Linked DNA regions of Homo sapiens: all the other regions are reported to be linked to region 1. Evidence: microRNA targets listed by miRTarBase, many of them from high-throughput screens and not tested one by one. Region 1 holds a microRNA gene; each other region holds the end of a gene's coding sequence.
The links. The annotated mature microRNA hsa-miR-221-3p reads AGCUACAUUGUCUGCUGGGUUUC and lies in region 1 at 1,721-1,743, opposite strand. An mRNA with a match to its seed (bases 2 to 7 or 8) in the 3' UTR can be bound and repressed. Matches are read on the target gene's strand: a 7mer-m8 pairs with bases 2 to 8, a 7mer-A1 pairs with bases 2 to 7 and ends in A, and an 8mer does both.

Region 2: miRTarBase lists ZKSCAN8 as a target of hsa-miR-221-3p. Seed matches in the 3' UTR shown: 7mer-m8 at 3,245-3,251, 7mer-m8 at 1,372-1,378 and 7mer-m8 at 167-173.
Region 3: the mRNA of PCDHA1 is a reported target of hsa-miR-221-3p. Seed matches in the 3' UTR shown: 8mer at 3,544-3,551.
Region 4: miRTarBase lists DHX15 as a target of hsa-miR-221-3p. The part of its 3' UTR that is shown has no 7-base or 8-base seed match.
Region 5: the mRNA of UQCR10 is a reported target of hsa-miR-221-3p. The part of its 3' UTR that is shown has no 7-base or 8-base seed match.
Region 6: miRTarBase lists RNF20 as a target of hsa-miR-221-3p. Seed matches in the 3' UTR shown: 7mer-A1 at 2,957-2,963.

What each region holds. Positions count from the first base shown.
Region 1 is chrX:45,744,460-45,748,595 of GRCh38, forward strand. It overlaps MIR221 (microRNA 221), which reads right to left and starts at 1,807; the gene lies at 1,698-1,807. It overlaps MIR222HG (miR222/221 cluster host gene), which reads right to left. Exons shown (of 2, transcript NR_170290.1): 2 at 755-4,136. It overlaps MIR222 (microRNA 222), which reads right to left and starts at 2,665; the gene lies at 2,556-2,665.
Region 2 is chr6:28,153,613-28,157,748 of GRCh38, reverse strand. ZKSCAN8 (zinc finger with KRAB and SCAN domains 8) reads right to left here. Exons shown (of 6, transcript NM_006298.4): 6 at 1-4,136. The coding sequence ends at 3,732. Among named protein-coding and RNA genes, the nearest start is that of ZKSCAN8, 14 kb to the right of the region's middle.
Region 3 is chr5:141,009,548-141,013,547 of GRCh38, reverse strand. PCDHA1 (protocadherin alpha 1) reads right to left here. Exons shown (of 4, transcript NM_018900.4): 4 at 1,201-3,921. The coding sequence ends at 3,611. PCDHA2 (protocadherin alpha 2) reads right to left here. Exons shown (of 4, transcript NM_018905.3): 4 at 1,201-3,921. The coding sequence ends at 3,611. PCDHA3 (protocadherin alpha 3) reads right to left here. Exons shown (of 4, transcript NM_018906.3): 4 at 1,201-3,921. The coding sequence ends at 3,611. PCDHA4 (protocadherin alpha 4) reads right to left here. Exons shown (of 4, transcript NM_018907.4): 4 at 1,201-3,921. The coding sequence ends at 3,611. It also overlaps PCDHA5, PCDHA6, PCDHA7, PCDHA8, PCDHA9 and PCDHA10, and 7 more genes. Among named protein-coding and RNA genes, the nearest start is that of PCDHB1, 40 kb to the left of the region's middle.
Region 4 is chr4:24,524,245-24,528,380 of GRCh38, forward strand. It overlaps DHX15 (DEAH-box helicase 15), which reads right to left. Exons shown (of 14, transcript NM_001358.3): 14 at 3,231-3,797. The coding sequence ends at 3,680. Among named protein-coding and RNA genes, the nearest start is that of MIR573, 6.0 kb to the left of the region's middle.
Region 5 is chr22:29,769,447-29,773,446 of GRCh38, reverse strand. It overlaps UQCR10 (ubiquinol-cytochrome c reductase, complex III subunit X), which reads right to left. Exons shown (of 2, transcript NM_013387.4): 2 at 3,034-3,769. The coding sequence ends at 3,728. Among named protein-coding and RNA genes, the nearest start is that of UQCR10, 4.1 kb to the right of the region's middle.
Region 6 is chr9:101,561,700-101,565,835 of GRCh38, reverse strand. RNF20 (ring finger protein 20) reads right to left here. Exons shown (of 20, transcript NM_019592.7): 19 at 3,825-3,926; 20 at 2,492-3,590. The coding sequence ends at 3,414. Among named protein-coding and RNA genes, the nearest start is that of RNF20, 30 kb to the right of the region's middle.

The sequences.
Region 1 (4,136 bases):
ATTATCTTGTTAGCATACAGAAAGACACTCATCACTCCAGAGAGTCCAAGGATCTTAGAAGCTCTTGTGTCAGGAACAGGGGACTAAGACCAAATACTTTAACAAAAGATGCTATCACCTCTATTAGTTAGAAAATTATGACAGTTTTAGCAGCTCTGTTCCAGGAACTGAGGGTGAAGACCAAATATGTCTTTTTCTTATTATATTATCACAACATTCAATCTTGCTTTGAGGATCAACCCAATACTTGTACCTGAGAGGGAAATGTAAACTTATCAATGGAATTAGGGAGTTCTTCACACCTGGCACCACTGTCAACACCTTCTCATTTAATGATAGGCAAAGGGACTCAAAGAACATCAGAAGTAAGGAGTGGAGGACTGGGCATGGTGGTTCAAGCCTGTAATCCCAGCACTTTTGGAGGCTGAGGCGAGAGGATCACTTGAGCCCAAGAGTTCTGTACCAGTGCACTCCAGCCTGAATGACAGAATGAGAACTCATCTCTTTAAAAAAAAAAAAAAAAAAGTATGAGTGGACATGGGAGAAGAGAAACTGTCCCTTTGGTAATTATGATTTATTAAACATAACCATGTTGCACAGAGCCACTTATTTCTCTTAAAAGCCTGTCAAACGTCTTAAGTGGAATTACTTTCTCTTCCCGGGTCACAAAAGCCAGTGGCTCAGGTACAGAATAGATAATAGAACTGATTGGTGAGTAGGAAGCCAAAAGACACACACAGAGAACAGTACAATCTTTTAAAAGCTCCAAGTCATTAGCTTTATTTTTACTGAATTCAGCATGGGATGACAAAAATGCATTATATCACTACCATCCATTATTACATGTAGACATTTATCCTTGTATTCTTTATATGTCCATTTTCTACGTTAAATCTGTTAACCAATACTAATTTAAATTACATGATTTCCTACTAAAAATATGCAGTTCATATAAGCAAGGGCAAATAAATCCTCCTTAAAACATTTTATTCCTTTATAATTGAGAACTTAACAGTCTTAATGGCTAGTTCTTAAAAAATGTTTATAGGATTAAGTTTATTTAAGAGAGCAGACAAACAAAACATATTGTAAAACTAGTATTTTCCAGAAGCAATTTCCATTCTCTTCCTTTCTTCCTGCAAACTGGTGTTTTATCTTTACAAGTTCTCTGTCATTCCATAAGAAAGCTGAACAGTGGTTAAAACATCCAGTTTGCTTGAATTCCTGAGTGATTCAGATTCCAGTGAGATTGAGGGTCATTCATAACAGTTACAAGGCTGGTGTGGTAAAGGGAGAACAAAAATAAACTGGGTTTCTGCAGGTAAGTGAGAAGACAAAATGAAGAGGAATAAGGTTGTAAGGCAGTATGATTAGGCTTGTGGGTGCTATGCCTTCTGATAATAATTATGAACAGAAATAGAAGCCAAAAAGTAAACAACATGTAAGTTGTCAATCTTTGACAGTTGAGGCAGGGAGAAGGAAGGAAGGATGACATTACACCTTATCTCTGGTTTACTAGGCTGGTGTGTGAGACCATTTGGGTGAAATCGTATTGAAATCATTCATTGCTGAGGTGATCAGCTTTCTTGCGGTCCTTTCTCTGCACTCTATTCAATGATAAACTCCACTGGTTTATACCTCCTGGAAAACAGTTATTCAGAAACATTATAGGGGTAGCATTGGTGAGACAGCCAATGGAGAACATGTTTCCAGGTAGCCTGAAACCCAGCAGACAATGTAGCTGTTGCCTAACGAACACAGAAATCTACATTGTATGCCAGGTTCATGCCCCAGACCTGGATGTTCAGCTTGCAAGTAATTCTCACATACTATTTCAACACAACTGCCTACTGCATTCAAGATTTCAAAATTGGCATTTGTCTTTTCTACCACAAGGAAAAGAAAACCAACAGTCAGAAATGCTGGGACTTACCTACTACCAACAAAATTTCCTTAAACCATCATATCATCAAGTTGTCATCATTTAATCATGACATCATGTTGAAAATGCCATCTAAAAGTCAAGAGATGAAAAAGCTGGATGGAAGGAAGGTCGGATAGATAAACTGGTAGGTACGTGGGCAGGTGGGTGGATGGATGGATGGATGGGTGGATGGATAAATGGGTGGATGGGTAGGGGTAGATAGGTAGGTAGGTAGATAGATGAATAGATTGATCTATCCAAATGATACCTTTCATAGGGGGGAAAGAGAAAAAAAGAGGTAAAACAAAAACAGGTAAGAGCTAAAACATGGATAAATATCCAGATTCCTCCCCCTTGTAGTATTGAAAGCAAATAGACCTCATCATTCATAAAACCTTGAAGGTTCCCAAGCCCCAGCTGATAATGTTGGACTTAACACCCTAGAACTTGACTCTCTCCTCTCTCTCTGTCTCTCTCTCTCTCTCTCTCTCTCTCTCTTTGTGTGTGTGTGAGTGTGTGTGTGAGTGTGTGTGTGTGTGTGTGTGTGTGTGTGTGTGTGTGTGTGTAATTCAAGGTAAAGTTTTCATTATTAAAGACTGCCCAATAATCTCTCTCAGGACACTGAAGCAGAAGCTAGAAGATGCCATCAGAGACCCAGTAGCCAGATGTAGCTGCTGATTACGAAAGACAGGATCTACACTGGCTACTGAGCCATTGAGGGTACCTACACCTTCCAGCAGCTGGGTGATCCTTTGCCTTCTGGGGAGGGGCTCTGTGGAAGAAAAAAGAAGATATCAGATTTCAATTGCACATTTTCTTTGGATCATGAATTGACATTTTGACAATATTCCCATGTACGTAATTTTAAACAACCTCTGGATTTATTTACTTATCCAACAGATACTGACTGAGTGACATTAAATAAAGTGCCACATATTTTCTTAGGTGCTGGAGATCCAGCAGCAAACAAAAAAAGTGGAAAATCTCTATACTTCTACAGCATACATGATTCCTTGTGACAAAATCTACAATCAATTATTTGGTATGTTTTGCAGTAAAATGGAAATATACACAAGAGAAAAACAAACAAGCAAACAAAAAACCAATCTACCATTTTATTGTGGCTTGGAGCATTTTTGTTGCTTCCTGTCACTTTAACTTGGGTAATCTAGCAATGATGCACATATGTAAAGTAAATTGCAGTTAAAAAATTCTTTCGTGTTACGAACTGAGGATAATACAGTTATTTTACCAAATATCTCAAACACCAAAGAAAATTACAGAAAATGCATATTATAATAAATATTCAAAGCAGGTGCTCACTAGCATGTCAGTTCCAAGCTTTCCTCCCATGATACAATGAAGGTAACAAAATAAGTCACAGGATTGGTGTTCTCTTTGCTATTCATTTATCCACCCCAGAAATACTTACTGAGTACCTTCAATAAGTACCTTTCAGTACCTTACTGAAATACTTCTGCGTGCTTTATTCCAGGCACTGGGAATGCAACACTGAACAAAATCCTTGCACTCACGGAAGTTTAAGTCTAAGATTTAAGGAAAGGGTAGAAAAAGACTGAAAAAAACCTCCATAGATATGGACGGTCATTTCATAGAGTAATGAAACAGTTAAGAGGAATGCTATTTTCGATAAGGTGGCTAGGAAAAGCCTCACTGAGGGCCTGGCATTTGAGTGGATTCCTGAAGTAGGAGGAGAAGAATCATGTACATACCTGGGGTGGGAAAGGACACCACAGGGAGAGGCAAGAGTCAGAACAAAAAGCACTGAAACAGGAAAAAGCCTGGTATCTTGGACAAGGTGTTCTTTTATTAGCACATGACCACATGGCCAATTATTGTTTCCTACTTTTAGGATTATTCTAGAAGGTAAATGACTATGCAACTTTTCTCCAAGTACACGTCTTAGAATCCTTTGCTGTGAATTTAAAATGCTTCAGCTATCACTTAGAAAAGATTTAATAAAGCTACTGTCAATTGGAAACTAGTACCATTTGATCGGACATGCAGCTATACCACAGTATGACACACACATATTTATCACCAAGAGAAAAGTGGCTTTTTAAAAATGTGTTAGCTATAAGAAAAGATAACCAGCTTTCTGGGAGCTCTAAATATATACATATCTAGGGAATGATTTAACTATTTAATCACAGATGTCTAATTTTAAGAGGCAACTCACTTGCCAAATTAT
Region 2 (4,136 bases), not on the chromosome of region 1:
AAATATGTTTTGTTTGCACAATTTAGCTTTGTAGTACTACAAAGCATCAACACTTAAAAATGATATAATTGTAACCCCAAAAAGCATTTTCCACCAATTTTCCAGTAATTGTAATGTATTTGCACTCTACTGCACATTCTTTTCCCCAGTACCTCTCATGACAAGCGCTACATATTTTTAAAAAGCTGGTTAGAATTACCATGTTCATTATACACACCTTAGCACAGTAGTCAGAACAGGCTCTAGAATCAAACTGTGTGGGTCAGAATCAGTTTTATCACATACTGGCTGGGTGATATTGGTCAGCTCACTCAACTAAGCCTCCGTTTCCTCATTTATAAAATGGGGGATAAAATAATACCTATTGATATGGTTTGGCTGTGTCCCATCCAAATCTCATCTTGAATTGTAGCTCCCACAATTCCCACGTGTCGTGGGTGGGACCAAGTGGGAGGTAATTGAATCACGGGGGCAGAACTTTCCTGTGCTGTTCTTGTGATAGTGAATAAGTCTCACAAGATCGGACGGTTTTATAAAGAGTTCCCCTGCACAAGTTCTCTCTTTGCCTGCTGCCATCCATGTATAAGACATGATTTGCTCCTCCTTGCCTTCCACCATGATTGTGAGGCGTCCCCAGCCATGTGGAACTGAGTCCATTAAACCTCTTTCCTTTATAAATTACCCAGTGTCAGGTATGTCTTTAATAGCAGCATGAGAACAGACTAATACATTTATCATGAGCCTGAGAAAGGCATAACAGGGTTGGGCACATAGTAAGTGCTCAATAAACGTCGGCTATTATTATTTGGAGACTCAGAACCAAGAGTAAAGTTAACTGCTCTGTTTGGGAATCAACCACCATATTCTAGCACTGCACCTTGCTCCATGGAGAAAATCTCTGAAACCTAACATGCCTCTCCCAGGGCTATGTTGGATGGCATTAGAGTTATGAAAGAACCACCTTATCATGTCAGTTCCTAAAATGAGAAGCTTAGGATGGGAGGAGAAAGTACTGATGAATAGTTCATTTCAGATGAACATAAAGATAGAATCTATAGGATAAAGGAGCTTAATGAATGCCATTCACAGTTAAGAGCTCAAAATGTCATACAGCCTAGTCAATAATATTCTATGCTAAGAGTGTGAACTTGAGACAAAGAATGATTTCTAGTGATGTCCTCAAAGAATCCACAGCCTTTTTCTATTGTCTTATACCATTTGGCTAATTCTGTATATGTGCTGTATCAGCTTTGATAATTCTTTCAAGACACAGTCTTTTCTCACACCCAATATAACACTAATTTTTCTAGTCATATTATTTTCTCCAAATTTATGCCACATGCTTAGTAATTCTGAGATTTAAGTAATCTGGCTACATATTACTCTTAATACTGACACATAAAGAGACTTTAGCTAGTACATCTGTATACATTTCAATGTGTTGCTCTGGTCTATGGCCATACCACCCTGAATGCACCCAATTTTGTTAATATGTTGCATTGCTAAAAGGACTTTTTATTGGAATAGAAGAGAAGCGTTCTTCTAAAGTGTATGGCAGGTGTGTGTGTGTGTGTACATACACATGTGTACATACACATATATTTTCCCTCTGACAATGCACCCATCATATGTAATATTTGCATACAAGGTAATACTGGCCCCAGGAAGAATCAGTATCTTACAGAGGGTAAGGCACAACTGAAACACAGAGCAAAGATCTAGATACAACCAGATTTACTTGTTTCTGGTTTCTTAAAATTTCAAGTACAAAGAAACTAGGAATGGTAACTTATAAATAAAAGAAACAAGAGAAGGGAGGATAAGAAAATAAAGGATAATCGAAAGGACTGTTGGAAACCAACATGACAAGTGATGGGTGTCTTCATTCACCAATGGCTCAATGAAATTGATGTAGATAATTCTGATGTTGTTAGTGGTCAAAGTGGGCCATAGAGAGGCAGAGAAGGAATGTTATAGGGAAAGAATTTATGATCCAAAAGGTGGTCCTCTATGACGTAAGACTTTGATTGCTTTTTTTGGCCCATCAATCATAAAATGATTATTATTTCTTTTCAGGATAGTCACAGGGTGAAATTATGAAGCTTTCATCAGAACCTATATAATTTTTTTTCTGAATAGGCTCAATGTAATCAATTTTAAGTTTAAAGGTTAATTTTGGAAAGCCCAAAATTTCTCAATTCCAACTCTGGTGAATAAGTGGCTACTCAAATGGTAAAACTAAAGTGTAAGAGTAATAGAGGGTTTTCTCATATGGTTTATTAAATGGGAATTCTAAGAGTGTTCCAAATATTTGGAAGAATATAGTAGTATGGAATAATAGTACTTGGGAATAACAAGTGACAACCCACATTGGATGCGTAAGTTCTGGCATGTTACTTTAAACCAGTCTCATTACTTTATATAGTATTCCTTGGTATAACAAAAGCCTCAAAGATGAAATATAGTGCCTGGTGATACTGAGTTTAAGAGTACATCTTTGTTGGTAGATTATAGACATGGATTACAGATGGAGTGCACCAGAGTTCAAAAGAATGAAAACCTGTGAGGTAAGGTATTAGATTACCACTGTGGATATTAAAGTCATATAAACTAATGGCAAGAAACAGATGGAGAATAACGAGTGAGGTGCTGAGGCCATCTAAAGAGATGGGTGCAAGGTAATGATAGGAGTGACAGACCATCTAGTCAGGGAGTTTGCACAGGCTGTTAAGAACCTGAGAAAGCAGTATTGTAATGGGCCAAAAAAGATGAGTATACATTCTTTGTAAGGTTTTTATCTTCCTAAAGCATCTTCGTCTCCTTCTCCTACCTGATGCCATAACTAGGATAGTGCCAACTATCTGTACCACAGTGTACAGTGGGGAGGTGGAAGGAGAGTCAGAAGTCACCAAAATGTATAACTATCCAAGCTCAAGAGCAGCTGGGCTGAGTCTCCACTCACCTCTTTCTCTGTATTACTCCCATAACCATTACTAATGTGTCCACTTTCTTTACTGACACAGGTGCTGGGACTGGGGGTGGTGAAGGATATGTACAGATGCTCAATGACTCAATGGAGTCAGTGAAGGTGATACATGAAGAAAAATGCTGGAGTGCTGTTAAAAATATAGCATTCTGAGTTTGTATGGGAATACAAATTTCCACTGACTAGAAGGAATATTAGAATAAAAAAATGCACACTTAAGCATAAATACTTTAAGTGTCTGTAAAATTTTCCTAGAAAGCTACATACAAATATAAGTTTCACACAGAAGCTACTTCTGACTCTACAGCAGCTTCTTAGATCAGATTAGGAATACAAGGGCACCTTCAAGGGAATAAATGGGAGAGGGGGATCACAGGAGATGGGAAGAAGCACAGGAACTAGGAGTAGCCAGCCTCTCTCAAACCTATAGCTACTCACCCAAAAGACAAAGTTAAGCTCTTCAAGCCATGACAAGCAACTTGCTCTAATGCTATTTTAAATTTCTAAAGGATACATTAGGTCATCAGGAGCTCCATCAGATACTTTCAAAGACAGTCAAGCTAATCAACCTTCACCAAGGCACTGGGCCCAAATTACTAAAGAGCTATCCTAACTTTGCCACCACTATAGATTCTGACACTAAAGTTGTGATGACCTTTCTGCCTTTTAGTACACTGAAAGACCTCTCACCAGTGTGTGGTTTCCCTAATGCTGAATAATGCTCAAACTCTAACTGATGTTGTTCCTAAACGCTTATGGATTCAGATTTTTCACCACTGTGGATTCTCTGATGTCGAATGAGACTTGACCTCTGAATAAAGGCTTTCCCACACTCATTACATTGGTAGGGCTTCTCCCCTGTGTGAATTCTCAGGTGTTGAATGAGACCAGTGTTCCCATTGAAAGCTTTCCCACATTCTTTACATTTATAGGGTCTTTCTCCAGTGTGGATTCTCTGATGTTCAATAAGGCCTGACTTCTGACTGAAGGCCCTCCCACACTCATTGCATTTGTAGGGTTTCTCCCCAGTGTGGCTCCTCTGATGACCAATAAGATGTGAGCTCCGCCTGAAGGTTTTCCCACACTCATCACACTCATAGGGCTTCTCCCCAGTGTGGATTCTCTGATGTCCAATGAGGTGTGAGCTATG
Region 3 (4,000 bases), not on the chromosome of region 1:
CTAATAGCTAAATCTCTGAAAAGGGGGTAAGGAAATGGAAGAAAAGGATTAATAAATAATAATATTTATTGAGTACTATGGTGTGCCAGACCTGCTAAAACCTTTTAAGATTACCTCACAAATCTATAAGGTCTGTATTATAATTATGACCAGTTTAGAGATGACTGAAAAACTGAGAGAAGTAGTGGTTTGCCTCAAATTCCCCATCTAGTTAGTGGCACAGCTATACCAGTTTATTTATAGAGTCCCTATAAATCCCAGTTAGCCTGGGACAGTCCCAGTTTACATCTTGAATCCTGAAGTAATAACGAATGGTGTCTCCTGTTCCATTTCAAAAGTGGACTACACAAATTATATGGTCACTCTATCTCAAGGTTTCTCAATCTTGATTTGAGACATTGACATGTTGGGCTGTAAGATCCTTTGTTATAGGGGGCTGTCCTGTGCATTGCCAGGTGTTTCACAGCATCGTTGCCCCCTACCCAGTAGATGCCAATAGCACCCTCCACTTCAAGTAATGAAAAGCAACAATGACTTCAGACGTTGCCAAATGTCCCCAGGAGGGCAAAATTGCTCCTAACTGAGAACCTACAGCATCTAAAGCTTATATTTATACAAATTTAACTACAAAAGGACAAAACAATCTATTTGTCACAGCTGAACCTATGCAGTAGTGTGGCTGGCATACACCCTGTACTCAATAAAAGTTATTTCTTTTTGTACAGATGGGATCTCGCTATGCTGCCCAGGCTGATCTTGAACTCCTGGCCTCAAGCCATCCTCTGGCCTTGGCCTTCCAAAGTTCTGAGATTACAGGCAAGAGCCACTATCCCTGACCTAAAAGTTCATTTCTTTGGGGTGTCACTTGGCTTTCCAATTGTAGAGAGGTGCAAGGGCTAAACAAGTAATGAAAAAGATGCCTAGAAGGGCTCTTGTGATAAAAATGGGTTTGTTGCAATTCTTATTAGAGAAAACTGAAATAGTGTAACTACAAAGTGACGCAGCAACCTCCTGGCTGCCCATTCTAATGATATGAAGTTTGAATCTTGATTCCACTGGGGCTTTTGCCTTAGTAATGGACATAAAAGCTAACGTGATAAGAGAGTGTTACAGTGAGTTTCATACTGCAGCAATCTTCTTCAGTATTAATTGCTTATCAGTGTTCTATTTCCTCCTATTCTTAGAAATGACCACCATTTCTTTCATACCACCATTTTCATTTATTAGCAATAACAGAGGAAATACCAATAGCACCAATTCAAAATGAATCCACATGACGTGTTTTATCCTTACAGCTGTAATAACTAGTAACTAACATGGATTGGAAAGCACTTCGCAAATGTAAAAAGTGCTGTACAGATACATTATAATTATCATCATTAATAAATTAGCCCGATTCTCCTAGTTCAAAAGGCACGTAAGGTCAGATACATGGGCTTCAGTGGGGCAAAATGATCACAACCTACAATGTAGCAATGGTTCACATGTGTTGGTAACAAGTTTTACCCCATGCAATCCTGCAGAGCTGAAGTTACACACCCTTCAAAATATGGGAGAATGAAGCTAAAAGTAGACAAGACAGTTTTTTTTTAAATTTAATGCTTTTTTTAAATAACAGACTCCTACCTCTTTTATATTAATGCCTAAATAGATAATATAATTAATCAAACTTCTAAATTGTACATTATAACAAAATTAAAATGTCTTATTTAAGGTGACAGCAAATTTTGTTACTTTCTATGAGCTGATATTTCAGATACCATTAGAATTTCAAAGCATTCTGCAACTTCAAAGAGGTCAGATTGGTAAAATTTGTGCTTGCACACCCTCATGGAATATTGTCAGTATTCATTCCAAAATTGTTACTAGAACAAAACAGCTTTATCCATTCCCTTGCCAGCAGAAGTCTTGGCACGAGATGGCTCTTGGCTGGACCATAAATAAAATTCCTTGAATCACCAGTATCTTGATTTAAGAAAGAAATTTTACTGTGTCTTTCATACACAAAAGCTGATTAACAATGGTTAAAAAAACACTACTCCACTTTTTCACAGGTGTACAAAAGGAAATATAATGGAATTACATTCAACAATAAAGCTTAAAGTTCACTCTAGGTAATAGTTGCATTAACATTCACATACACAAGCACAGAGTAAGTATATTTCAGGAGTCTTAGCATAGCATACAGCATACATATGGGAGATTGATTTCAGGTAACATCATAGGTGTTAGTAAGATTAGCAATTCAGAGTGTTATAGAAAAGGAAAACTAAACCAAAGAGAAGGTGTAGGCTAGCACACCAAGACAAGTCACAGAATTAGTAGATTGAAAAATCTGCTCACTGTATGAGAAAACAATATTTTTCTTCAATTTTTGGGTCTTGATATATAGTTGGTTAGAGAAGGTTGTGTATCAAAGTGCACATAATTGTTTCTTAGAAAAGAGAGAGAGAGAGAGAAAGAGAGATCATTTTATTTAGTAATACATGCAAGAGGCAGCCCCAGAGTGACCTGAAAGAGTAAAGCTGTGATTGGCAGGTGGCCGATATAATACAGATGTTTCAGGCAATTCTCTTAAAGCACTTCTGTAGCAGCAATGATCATTTAAATGGCTGTAGACTGAATTCTCTTTTGAGGAGAGTTTAGGGGAATTGTATTCATATTTCTCTTTAAAGATTTATAGCTATAGACTTTCTCTTTTTTTAAATAAATCTATGAAACAACAAACAGCGAAAGGTGAGGTGTCGGGGTTTTCTTTTGCTTTTGCATAAGTATTGGAAAAGGATCTGGCCTTTTCATAAACATTGTGTGCAAAAGAATTTTTAATAAAGTGAGCACAGGACATGTATAGGAAACACATCAGATCTGCTTCTGTTTCCCAGGGTGGTTCTCTGTTAAAACACTGAACTGTTGGCTTGCAGGTATGATGCAGATTTTAGGTATAATGACGTCACAGCCAACAGACTTTAGGGTCTCCTAAAGCCTTGTCAGTGGGGGTAGTTTTGTCTCCTAGAGGGTGGCTGCCACCTCTTGAGTTGTAAGATTTAGAAAGTCTGGTCCCTTTAAGTTTACACTTCCCCTCCATACTGATAACTTCCGCTGTTTATTTGTCTTTGTTTTCTTGCCTTCCTTGTACCAATTAGTCTAAGCTGGCTCGTCTCAGCCAATATCTGGCACTCGCATACCCGCGGTAGCCACACATACCCAGTGGCCACAAACTCCCAAGCTGCTCAATCTCAAAACTTTTCAGCCTGCCCTGCAAGTGTCATCAAGACAGGATCCCCGGAGCACAGGGCAGAGAGTCCAACCTCTCACTGGCGGGGCTGGGAAGCCTCTCCTTTGCGGCGGAGGAGAAAGGAAACTTGGGTCTGCTTTTTAGGTTCTGAAAACAAGCCAGAGTGGAGAGAAAGAGTTAACACCAGACTTAGTAAAGCTTTTACGACAAAACCTGTTAAATGCGTTCTAGACAGACACAGGGAACTTTCTGCAGATTTCTGAGGTCTCTAAGAGGGCTCATGTAGATAGGAAAAAGGAGCAGGGAATTGCTACATGGGAGAGATTTGCCATTATTACAAAAACTGGCTAAGTGGCTTGTTTCCATTTGAGGACCTCACTGGTCACTGTTGTCAGTCGTGCTGTTCCCTTTCTCTTTTTTCTCCTGGGTCTTGTTACCCTTCTTCTTTTTCTTCTTTTTCTTGGTCTCCTCCTTTTTGCCGAAGGTTATGAAGTCACTTTTGTCAATTTGGCTGTTAGTAGGCTCCTGCCGGATGGAGATGATTGCAGGAGATCCTGGGATAATGAATTTGTCGGGCAACTCACCGGGACCGGATTGTTTGGGGTTGCCTGGTCCGTATTTAAAGGTCCAGCTGTTGCTGTTGACACCCGCACCGACTGGAGGGGACACTTCTCCTGCCTCTGGTTCTGAAAGACAAAACATTACAAATCATTAACAGGGTCAACACATGCTCTTGATGCCACACTGCTGGTAGAGTACAGGAGT
Region 4 (4,136 bases), not on the chromosome of region 1:
ACTTTATCAAACTATATAGTTGATGTTAATTATACCTCAATAAAGCAGAACTTTAAAAACTGTCTCTGAACCATGACTCGTGCTCTGAAATGCTGTTAATCATCTAAGAAATCCTTATAGCCCATTTTTTAGGGACCACTAAAAATGCACAAGACCAGAAAACCACCTCATCATGTTCTCTAATATTAAAGAAACTGCAAAATTCAAATTAATGTTTACATGCAATCATTTACTAAAATCTGTCAACTTCATTTTTAAATGTAACATTGATAAAAACTGCGTTTGAAATAATGTGGTTTCATACTAGAAGAATTCTGAGACTGTTAGAAAACATTTAAAATTAAGATATTCCTATCCTGCCTTTAATTTTTTTAAATGTCATTAATGAGCTATGGACATATTTGAACATGTGAGCTATGGATATATTTGAACATGTGGGGTGAAGTCTCCGAAGATTAACACGACCCAAGGTCTGTGAAGGTCCCTTCTCAGCCCTGAGCCACAGAGATTAACATTCTCAAGTAATAATTACGTGCCTTAAATTTATACTAAGATTAATATGAAACAAAAGTATGCTGTGGTTGCTTGAAAGGTTAATGTAATCTGAAATTGTAGTAACAGAAGTGATGGTAGGCCTGGTCCTTTGGGAAATAGCAAGTTCAACTGCAGTCTGTCCAGCTTAGACCATAGTACTGACTGCAATCCACAGAGTATTTGGCAGATGTTAACCAGGAATGTACAGAATAGCTGGAAACCATGTTAAAGACAAATGTTGACAGGAAAGAAAACAAACAAACAAACAAAACCAGGGTATTCAGTCTAAATTAAAAATAAGGGAAGATGACAGTTAACTCCAAATATCTAAATGGCCATCAAGTAGCAGAATGGCCTTGTTTAATTATGTTCTAGAAGGAAAAACTGGAATCAGGTGTTACACAGAAAGGGCTTTAGCTTAGCATTTCTAAGAGCTATTAGGCAGCCTTCAAGGGTAATGAACTGTTTTGCTTGATGTATCTGGTTAGGGAGGATAGCCATTAAAATTACTTCTAAGTATATGCGAGTACCTTATAAACCTAAAATTCTAGAATTAAGTCATATGCCGTATAAAAAACTTGAGTATAGAATGCTTTTGGATTCTAGCTAAATTGGTTTATTGTAGGGCATCTTTTGTCCCATTTCTCACAAGTTGTGTTAATTTCCTGACATTTGCAGGGTCAATGGTTCTACTTACTGATGGCTTTCTTTCCTTATACCATAATGCAACAAGCAGTTCACCTATTCCAAGTTGAGAGATAAGGAAGGTGACCTCTTCAGGTAATCTCCAAAAAACTTTTTAATTTTCTTGTTGTATAGCACAAATAAATTATTTGATAGTCATAGCTCTATGTGAACAAAGGAAACTAACAACTTTGCTGTTCAGCTGCCAAATTTGTAAGATAAGGAGGTTGAGAGAAGACCATTTTTAAAAGCCACAACTTTGTCAATAACATCAATGGTAAGAATCTTCAGCTTTAGGCTGAGCAAGGTGGCTCACGCCTGTAATCCCAGGACTTTGGGAGGCCGAGACGGGCGGATCACGAGGTCAGGAGATCGAGACCATCTTTGCTAACATGGTGAAACCCCGTCTCTACTAAAAATACAAAAAAATTAGCCAGGCGTGGTGGTGGGTGCCTGTAGTCCCAGCTAACTCGGGAGGCTGAGGCAGGAGAATGGCGTGAGCCCAGGAGGCAGAGCTTGCAGTGAGCCGAGTTTGCACCACTGCACTCCAGCCTGGGCAGCAGAGCGAGATTCCGTCTTTAAAAAAGAAAAAAAAAAAAAAAAGAATTTTCAGCTTTGGTCAGATGTAGGCAGGCTAGAACAACTGGAGATGGTGGGGGATAGACATCATGATAAAAACTCAACTTGCTCTTTCTATGTGGCCATTCTCAATGCACACCCATGATTCCTAGAAGCTCTGCCAAATACCAAACTTTATTCTAGATATCTGAAAACTCTAACACGTAACAGTTTCTCTGTAAGAAAACCTAATGGTCTAACTTCACATTTTACACAGCCCAAGATTAAATAATACGTTACACCACTCTGAGACCTACTTAAAATTGGATGGTCAGATTATAAAGATACACAACAACTTACAAACTACACTTGCAGCTTAAATTAACAAGCAAAATATTCCTCTGGTGAGAGCTGCCATTTCAGTGAGAACAGTCTGACCAAGTACTTAGACTTTTTCAACATAACTTTAAGACATTCTGGCAATGTTGCCAATGCTTAATGTTGCATGAATATCTAACCAATATTTAAATGTAACCTGAAGTATTATTCCACCATGTAAATTATTCCATGGGAACAAAATGAGGCACTTATAGAAGGCACATTAACTTTTTCAAGCCACTAGGCATCATTTAGTAACACCTACCTACACTAAAAAGCATACTAGTTAGCTTCAAAGAGTTAACTTGCCCAACTCCCTAAGTCACATGCTAGTTACCAAGTATATTTAAATGCCAGGCACACACCTATATATTTCCTTTAACACTTAAAAACTTATAAAGGTAGGAGGGGAAGAAGAGGGAAGTCCAGACTAATGAGTACAGTATTTAGTCTTCATATGAAAATAACTGATTAAAAAACATTTTATGGGCCACATAAAACACCTCAATTTTCATTCCAAAATGAATGTAGACAAGTTTTCAACTTGTCTACTGCCTGTCATAGAAAATGGAAGGTCAAATGTACATTTTAACACACTATACAAATTATTTTGTATACTGCATAAAACTTCCATCACTAAGAATTTTGTTAAACTGAGATCTAAAATATGCTTTCCTCTTACCTAATACTAATAAACGTGTTTGAGAAGCTAGAAGTATAATAAAAACATCTGACAAAAATGTAGTTAATAAATTATGAGCCTTATGAAAGGAACTCTAAGAAAGACAAGTAGAGAGCTCTCCTTTCATTATTCTCTCTTTTGGGGTCCAGTTTCAAATGATCACTACACACATTTTACCCCTTTTAGATCGATCACATCCTGATTAACCTAACAAAGCGCTAAGCCATGCTCTTAAAAATACTGCTTTAACAGCTACTTTTCCTAAGGAGTACTCCTGGTAGAAAGATACTAAATATGTAGTAACAGTATAATTATAATAATAAAAAAGCTCCACACTTGAAAAACAACTATACTTAGAGACTAGAACAAAGATACCAAAGGGCTTTGGCCAAAATTAGTATAAATAGACTTTATTGAAGTCAGTGCCTCTGTACTGAGACAGAAGATTGTGTCTACATAAGCACAAGTTGTAACATTTCACAACTTCTAAAAGGAATGTCAACAATTACAACGATCATGCATACCATGGTCGATAATCACATTTTAGAAGCATTTTCAACCATTTCTAAAGAAATGCTTATAACATTGTTATATATAGAACTACTTTCAATAAACTGCAAAACATTGATCGACTTTTCCAGTATGAGCTACAGTGTCAACACAAAAGGGAGGCATAAATGTTTAATTTATGAAATCAGAATGGAATATTTACTGTAAAGAAAAATTAAAAAGCTTTCAAATAAAGGCCATTATCGAACCAACGTGAAGAGCACAACTCGAACTTTTGAGTTCATTCATCTTTTAAAGCTGTCCTCTCAATAACTTCAGTTCTAAGCACTGAATTCAGTACTGTGAATATTCCTTGGATTGAAGTTTGGCAATGATGCGGTCCAACTGTCTCTTTGCTTCACACTGTGGGAAATTGCTCATGTCATAATATTGAGGGGCAATTTTCACCAACCTGTTTAGAAGTGGGCAGAAAAATTTCCAAATTAACATTTAATTGAAGTACTGGAGTTGTTAATAGGATAGGCATTATTCATTAATATACTGATGAACCAAGGCAAATCTATGAATTCAAGTCTCAGAAAAATACAAATAACTAATCCTTACAAATAGCACTTTTAGAAATGTGTTAAGTATTTTATTTAGTAAGATGTGAATTTTCTGATGTTGGACTTACCATAAACTTAATAACAAACCCCTCAAGATACATTAATGTAAAGATAACAGATAAAGTCACTGATTTCTTTACTCTGGCACACTATTAATTTGCCACTCCAAGGATATAGTAATATAT
Region 5 (4,000 bases), not on the chromosome of region 1:
ACCCCAGCTACAAAACAACTGCTCTATGCCTGCTCAGGGCTTCCCAGTGTTCTCCTCTGGCACTCCCAGCCAGGAGGCACGGTTTCCAGCCAGGCTGCAAGGTCTCTAACAGCCATCAGCTCTAACCAGGAGCCAGGCATCAGCCTCCTAGCTAGGCTCTCTGCTTTTATTCCCACCCACTTCCAATCTAATTGCCCCACAGTTCCCAGAGTGAGGTTTTTATATGACAGAGCTTGTTGCTCCCTTGCTTAAGACATTTTCAGTAGTAGCTACTCATTCTAATTTTGGTAAAATCCAGATTCTTTTTTTTTTTTTTTTTTTTTTTTGAGATGGAGTCTCACTCTATCGCCCAGGCTAGAGTGCAGTGGTGAGACCTCAGCTCACTACAACCTCTGCCTCCCAGGTTCAAACGATTCTCCTGCCTCACCCTCCCAAGTAGCTGGGGTTATAGGTGCACGCCACCACGCCCCCGCTAATTTTTGTATTTTTAGTAGAGACAGGGGTTTCACCATGTTGGCCAGGCTGGTCTTGAACTCCTGACCTCAAGTGATCCACCCACCTCGGCCTCCCAAAGTGCTGGGATTGCAGGCATGAACCACTGTGCCCGGCCCAGATTCTTCACTATGACTTACCAGGTCCTGAATGATCTGGTCTCGTGTATTCTCCACCTTCAACCTCATCTACCTGGCCTGTGAGCTCCTGCAACACAGCAAGTGCTTTCCCCATATGGGCCCTAAAACCTGCTACTTCCCCTGCTTTGCCTCTAACGCCCAACGTAAGTGGCTCATCTTTATCACCTATCGGTCTCAGCTCTTCTGAGGCTTCCCTAGACCAGCTGTCACCCTGGTTAATCCCTCCCTCTCCTTGCACTGCTTCCCAGAGCCTTTGGCTCAGTCTGTAATAATACAGGATGGCTTTTAGTGTCTTCCCCATAGGAGTTTAAGCCCCACATGCTATATTACCATCATATGTCCTGCTAGCACAGTGCCTCACAGTGGCCAGCCAAACACTTGCTGAATGAATGACCAGACGTTTCTCCAACTCCTCCTCTTCACATTCCTACTGCTCCAGCCTTCCAGCAGAATCGTCTGGTTTTCTGAGTCCTTAGCCTCCATGTCTCTCTGCCAACAGTTTCTTCCATGTGCCAGCATCTGTGACTGTGCTAACTGCATTACAGCTCGTCTATTTTTTTTTTTTTTTTTGAGATGGAGTCTTGCTCTGTTGCCCAGGCTGGAGTGCAGTGATGCGATCTCTGCTCATTGCAACCTCCGCCTCCCGGGTTCACGCCGTTCTCCTGCCTCAGCCTCCCGAGTAGCTGGGACTACAGGCGCCCGCCACCACGCCCGGCTAATGTTTTTGTATTTTTAGTAGAAATGGGGTTTCACCGTGTTAGCCAGGATGGTCTCAATCTCCTGACCTCGTGATCCACCCACCTCGGCCTCACAAAGTGCTGGGATTACAGGCGTGAGCCACCACGCCCGGCCTACAGCTCCTCTATTTTTAAAAATTTAATTTAAAAACATTTTTGGCTGGGCATGGTGGCTCACGCCTGTAATCCCAACACTTTGGGAAGCCAAGGCAGGAGGATGTCTTGAGTCCAGGAGTTCGAGACCAGCCTGGGCAACATGGCAAAACCCTACCTCTACAAAAAATACAAAAAAACTAGTGGGGAGTGGTGGCGCACACCTGTAGTCCCAGCTACCTGGGAGGCTGAGGTGGGAGGATTGTTTGCACCCAGGTCGAGGCTGCATTGAGCTGAGATCAGGCCATAGCATTCCATTCTGGATGACAGAGCAAGACAGTCTTGCTGTCTCCCAGGCTGGAGTGTAGTGGCGCAATCTCGGCTCACTGTAACCTCCACTTCCCGAGTTCAAGCAATTCTCCTGCCTCAGCCTCCCGAGTAGCTGGGATTACAAGCATATGCCACCACACTCGGCTAATTTTTGTATTTTTAGTAGAGATGGGGTTTCACCATGTTGGCCAGGCTGGTCTTGAGCTCCTGACCTTAAGTGATCCGCCTGCCTTGGCCTCCCAAAGTGCTGGGATTACAGGTGTGAGACACTATGCCCAGCCAAAAATTTTTAGAGACAGGGTCTCACTCTCCCCCAGGCAGGAGTGCAGTGGCACAATCATAACTCACTGTAACCTTAACTTCTTGGCTCAAGTAATCCTCCCACCTCAGCCTCCCAAGTAGCTGGGATTATAGGCTGGTGCCACCATGCTCAGGTAATTTTAAATTTTTTTGTAGAGGCAGGGTATCTCACTATGTTGCTTAGACTGGTCTTAAACTGTTGGCCTCAAGCAATCCTCCCACCTCAGCCTCCTAAAGTGCTGGGATTACAGGCCTGCAACTCCTTTAATACTCCCAAAAATCCCACACAGTATGTTCTACTACCCCATTTTACAGATAAGGAAACCGGAGTTCAGCAAGTTCAAGTGCCTTGCCCTTGTGTATTAGTCCATTTTCACGCTGCTGATAAAGACATACCCGAGACTGGGTAATTTATAAAAAGAGGTTTAATGCATTCGCATTTCCACATGGCTGAGGAGGCCTCACAATCATGGTGGAAGGCGAAAGGCCCGTCTTACATGGCAGCAGGCAAGAGAATCAGAGCCAAGCAAAAGGGGAAACCCCTTATAAAATCATCAGATCTCGTGAGACTTATTCACTATCACGAGAACAGTGTGGGGGAACCGCTCCCATGATTCAATTATCTCCCACCGAGTCCCTCCCACAACACATGGGCACTATGGGAGCTACAATTCAAAACGAGATTTGGGTGGGGACACAGCCAAACCATATCACCTTGGTTCCCATAGCTAGAATCAGTGGAGTAAGGATTCAAACCCACCAACTAAGCACTTTTATGAACTGAACTCATCAGAGTGGAACTGTGGCAGGAGGCTGTGACCCAGAGAGGTATGACTGCTTACCAAAAGATACTCAGTAATAGGCAGAATACACCAAGCTTGTCCAACCCGTGGCCTGCAGGCTGCACGCAGCCCAGGATGGCTTTGAATGAGGCCCAAACACAAATTCTTCAACTTTATTAAAACATTATGAGATTTTTGCACAAACCATTGTTTTTTGTTTTAGCTCATCAGCTATGGTTACTGTATTTTATGTGTGGCCCAAGACAATTCTTCCAACATGGCCCAGGGAAGCCAAAGGATTGGATACCCCTGAACTATACCCTAGGGTGGGGAGTGGCTAAGACCCCTAGGCCAGGGTCTTTCCCCCAGCTGAGGCCATAGTGCTTCCCCATGGCCAAGACAGTGAGGTATTTAAGAATGGAATTACTGGCTTAGAAGCCAAAGTTGACTGTAATATCTCCAACTCTGGCTCCTGTTTTGAAAACCAGAATTCTTTGGAAGTTAATGGAAAACTCAAAATAGCAGATTCTGCCTTTGGGGTGTTTGCAGAGGGCTTTGAAGTGGTCTCAAATTACTGACAAGTGAAGATCAGGTAGAGTTAACAAAGCAACCAATGTAGAAGCAGGTCTCAAGGGCAATTCACATTTATTTCCTGAGCATGCTGACTAAACATACTTCAAACACAGCAGAAGGTAAAGAGTCTGTTTTGTAAGTAAAGCCGTTTCTTGCCAACAGCGAATGGTGGTCCATGAAGAGTACCTTGAGCATCATCTTCAAGCTGAGGCTCCAGCTCTGGGCAAACAGCTGCTGGGTGGACCTGGTCCTTCTGGCCTGGATGGGGGCCTCCAAGGAACTACTTGTTCTCATACTTGTGCTTGATGTGTTTCCACAGCTTCTGCATTTTAAAGACAAGAGCCACAAACTTTGACCTTTGCCTCTCACATTTTACAACTACTCCCACTGCCCTGGTCTCTAAAATGAGCTTGGGGGAAACACATGCCATGTCCTGATTAAAAAGATACACTTGTGGTGGGCAAACTCGAAGCAATCCTATGCTTGATGCACATTTTTTTTTTGAGACGGAGACTCGCTCTATCGCCCAGGCTGGAGTGTAGTGGCGCAATCT
Region 6 (4,136 bases), not on the chromosome of region 1:
ATTTTTCTACTAATCTCAGTGTATCTGTCTTAACATCAGAAAAGCAGACTTCTGCAATAATGACTAATCAAAACTTTTCTGCAGATCCACTGGGACATGGGTTTATCTGGCAGTCCTCAGATAAATCTTCAAAGAACAATATGTAACGGCATTCCACATCCTAGCAAATGACAATGGGAATAAAGATGAGAGTAGCATATGCTTCCGGCAAGTGTAAGCATCACCATCCTAGTAGGTTTAGAAGACTGATGATTATTTATTGTCTAGAATCTTCACAAAATCAAATCACAGTCATCACTCTAGTGGCATGTACATTAAACTATGTGCATCAAATTCCGGCCCTTGAAGAACAAGGAAGCCTACGGATCTGGACAGAGAAAAAGGAAAAGGAATTGCAATGGAAATTCATGTAAGAAAACAATTGCAGAAACAGCTCAATACCTTTGAAAAAGATCCCTATAGTAAGTAAGAAGGTAAGATCCAAGCCATGTAGTTATGCATGCCTCAGAGCACACCTGACTTTGGTCAAAGTCACTAAGAAATTTCCAAGGTAACAATGAAAGAAAGAAAAAAGAGAGAGAGAGACCATCCCTACAAAATCTGAAATGGTTGTTGTTTGTTTTTGAGACAGGGTCTCACTGTGTCACCCAGGCTGGAGTCCATGGCATAATCACAGCTCACAGCAGCCTTAACCTCCGGTGCTCAAGCTATCCTCCCGCTGCAGTCTCCCAAGTAGCTGGGACTACAGGTGTGCACCACCACAGCCAGCTAATTTTCGAAATTTTTTGTAGAGACGGGGTCTCCCTATGTTGCCTGGGCTGGTCTCAAACTCCTGGGCTCAAGCAATCCTCCTGTCTCAGCCTCCCAAACTGCTGGGATTATAGGCGTGAGCCACTGCACCCAGCCTGAAGTGTTTTTAAGAAATGAGAAGCCTCTAGGACTTCTATAATAATCTTTGAAATTGGCATTTATAAGCATTACCTTAAAGAAATTACCCTTTAAAGTTCATATGGATCAAGGGCTGTGATTGCTAACTAGGATCCAAAAAAGCTATGAATAATGTACATACAATACAAATAAAATTTGGTATGCAGTTTGGGAGTATTCCTAAAGCGCATTCATTGACCTCTTCTGTAGTGAGAGAAGCCAACTGCCAAAAAATCACCATCATTTTTGGTTGTTATCTGAAAATGACTGTGAGAGCTCAACTTGTGTTGCCAGGACCTCAAGCCAGTTGGGATCAGGGGCTCCCTGCTCATCTCAACTAGAGGAACTTCCTCTAAATCCAACTTCCCATGGGGCTAGTGGTTTCCTCCACAACATTCCACAGGCCCTATGGTCCCCTGGTGCTGGGCAGCTGGCTTTCTCAGCCAATTGTCACAAACAGCCAACAGCCAAGCCCAAACCACCTGTTGACCAAGCAGTATATCTGCACCCAACCAACAAAGTTATGCTCAAGCTTACCCTATAAGAAGAGCAAGAAGCAAGGGGAAAGTGTCCTATTACTAAATGAAAACTCACTGTGTCCAGAAGCAGGAGCTAATCCTGTCATGATGGTTCTGTGGGGGTGGGGGTGTTTGCTGAGCAGGGGGATCAAGGGACCCATGACCTCTCTTGATGACCTAGTAAGATTCTTCAATTAGACTCATTGCTTAATTCATACCACATGACTTTGTGGAATTCAGTGCAAATCCTGCTGATTATAGCTGGTGACCACAGAAAGACACAGAATTTGCTCTTACCTGTCTTCTAGGACAGGTGGTGATCAAGAAGGATCCATTTTACACAACCCCTTGCCAGAGATTTATGAAACCTCTGGTTTGCTGGTTATTATAAAACATAATGCAGCTGGGCATGGTGGCTCACACCTGTAATCAAAACACTTTGGGAGGCCAAGGAAGGTGGATCACCTGAAGTCAGGAGTTTGAGACCAGCCTGGCCAACATGGTAAAACCCCATCTCTGCTAAAAATACAAAAATTAGCTGGACATGGTGGTGAGCACCTGTAATCCCAGCTATTCGGGAGGCTGAGGCAGGAGAATTGCTTGGACCCAGGAGGCGGAGGTGGCAGTAAGCCAAGATTGTGCCACTGCACTCCAGCCTGGGCGACAAGAGCAAAACTCCATCTCAAAAAAAAAAAAAAAAAACCCACCACATAATGCAAGAACTCTCACCCTAAAGCTAGAGGCAGCAATATGCTCCCCCAAAAAACAAATTATAGTCTCTTACCCCACCTAATGAACTATGAAAGATAACTGAGTAGTCAAATAAATTAATCTTTTAGGTATAATTTCTCCATAGAATAGACTCAATAAAAGAATTGGGAGAAAAGTGCTTCAATTAAGCAAAGATCTAAATACTCTAAACAAGGCCAACCTCTTAACCTAAGCTGATTATTTCCATGCAAGAAAATTTAATTCTATAACAGCAGATATAAAATCAACTTGTAATAATAAAGACAAAAGTTTCAAAGAAAAACCATAAACACAAATGCAAACTGAATCCTGCTTTAATTCAAGCTTGTGGAGAACAAAGTCCTACAGAAACATTCCACAGAATTTTCTGGAAAAGAGGGATCACAACAACCCTGTAAAAAGGAGACTGAGAGTAATTCATAGCTCACCAAGTTCTCTCCGTATCAAATTTCCAGAATACCCACAAGATTTCTTCACCAGCTCAGTCCTGACTCAACCTCTTCAATCTTTATTTCATTAGAAGACAAAGGGTCATATTATTTAAAATTATTCTAGTCTCAAGAAATTTAAAGACTTGAAGTAGTAGAGCATTCAAAACTTAAATAACTTTAACAAGAAAGCCAGCTGATCTTAACAAGTTACTCTGCTAGTAAATGGGAAATAGACTGAATCATCCTAGACATAATTTCATTAGGGCTGCAAACCACCCAGGGGAGAGTAGCACAATTATACCATTTTGTAATCCACATTCACAAGAAGTTTGCTACACAAATGAAGAAAACTTTGTGCCCATAGACAACTTATTTTTTAAAATATCACTCCCCAAAAGTAGCCATGTTTCCACTTTTGTTCCCTTTTCCACATCAAAAATACCAACTTGATTTCTTCAGGAGGAATGGACAATCCAAGTTTATACAGTGGGCTGGAAAAAGAAAACACTGAAAAGTCTAAAAGCACAAAATAAACAAAGCTGGGAGGGAAGACAGTAAGAGTTATTTGTTTCTAATTCATTCTGAAACCCAAGGCTTGTATTTACCAGTCCTTTCTGCTAAAGTCATCCAGCTACTGAAGAGGAGAGCCTGGAAGTAAAGTCTGGAGGAAAGGTAGTTGACTGATAAACTGTCCTACAGGTGACAGTCAAGGAGAGAAGAGGTAGAGGTTTGGTGGTTAATGAATAAGTTCCTGACTAGCCAGCTCCTCTTCTTCTCTTGACTTAGATCAACCAATGTAGATGCGATGAAAATCATTGGCACCAAAAGCAGCATTACACTTGGGACATTTGCGCTGGCGGGTGTCATAGCGTGTCTTCACACACTCAAAGCAGAAGACATGAAAACACTTAGTAAGAACAGCATCCTTTTTACGCATGTTACAGCACGGACAGGTCAAGCGTGCCTAAAAAGAAAAGATGTCAGAGTTTGAACAACCATGAAAGTTTATGATCCAAATGGCTCTCATATACTACACAACCAAGAAGAAAACCCACAAGGCACTAAAAAAAGAGCATCATTTCCCCCCAACCTCCAAAATAAACCATTCTCTGGTTACTATCATGCAAATTATTCTCCCAGTCTATTAGGCCACTTAAAGCTTTGACAAAAAACTAATCACTAAGGCATTTTTTCTAACCTTGTAATCCTTAATCTCTTCCATCAGAATCTCATCACACTTGGGTACATTGTCTGGTTTCTTTGTGGTCTCCAGCTTCCTGCGAAGTCTAGAGATGTCCTCCTGTGGCAGGATAGCATACCCATTAGACACACTTACCCAAATCTATCATTTTTGAGAAAAATAATAGACTTGAGTTTTCTGTTGTGAAAAGAGGGGACTTTCTATCCTTTTATGGTCAATTATCTTGTAGAAATGTAGAGAACTGCAAATGGCAGGATATTTTCTTTTGTTTCAGAAGAGGCAACCATAATTATATCCCCAAATTAGAAT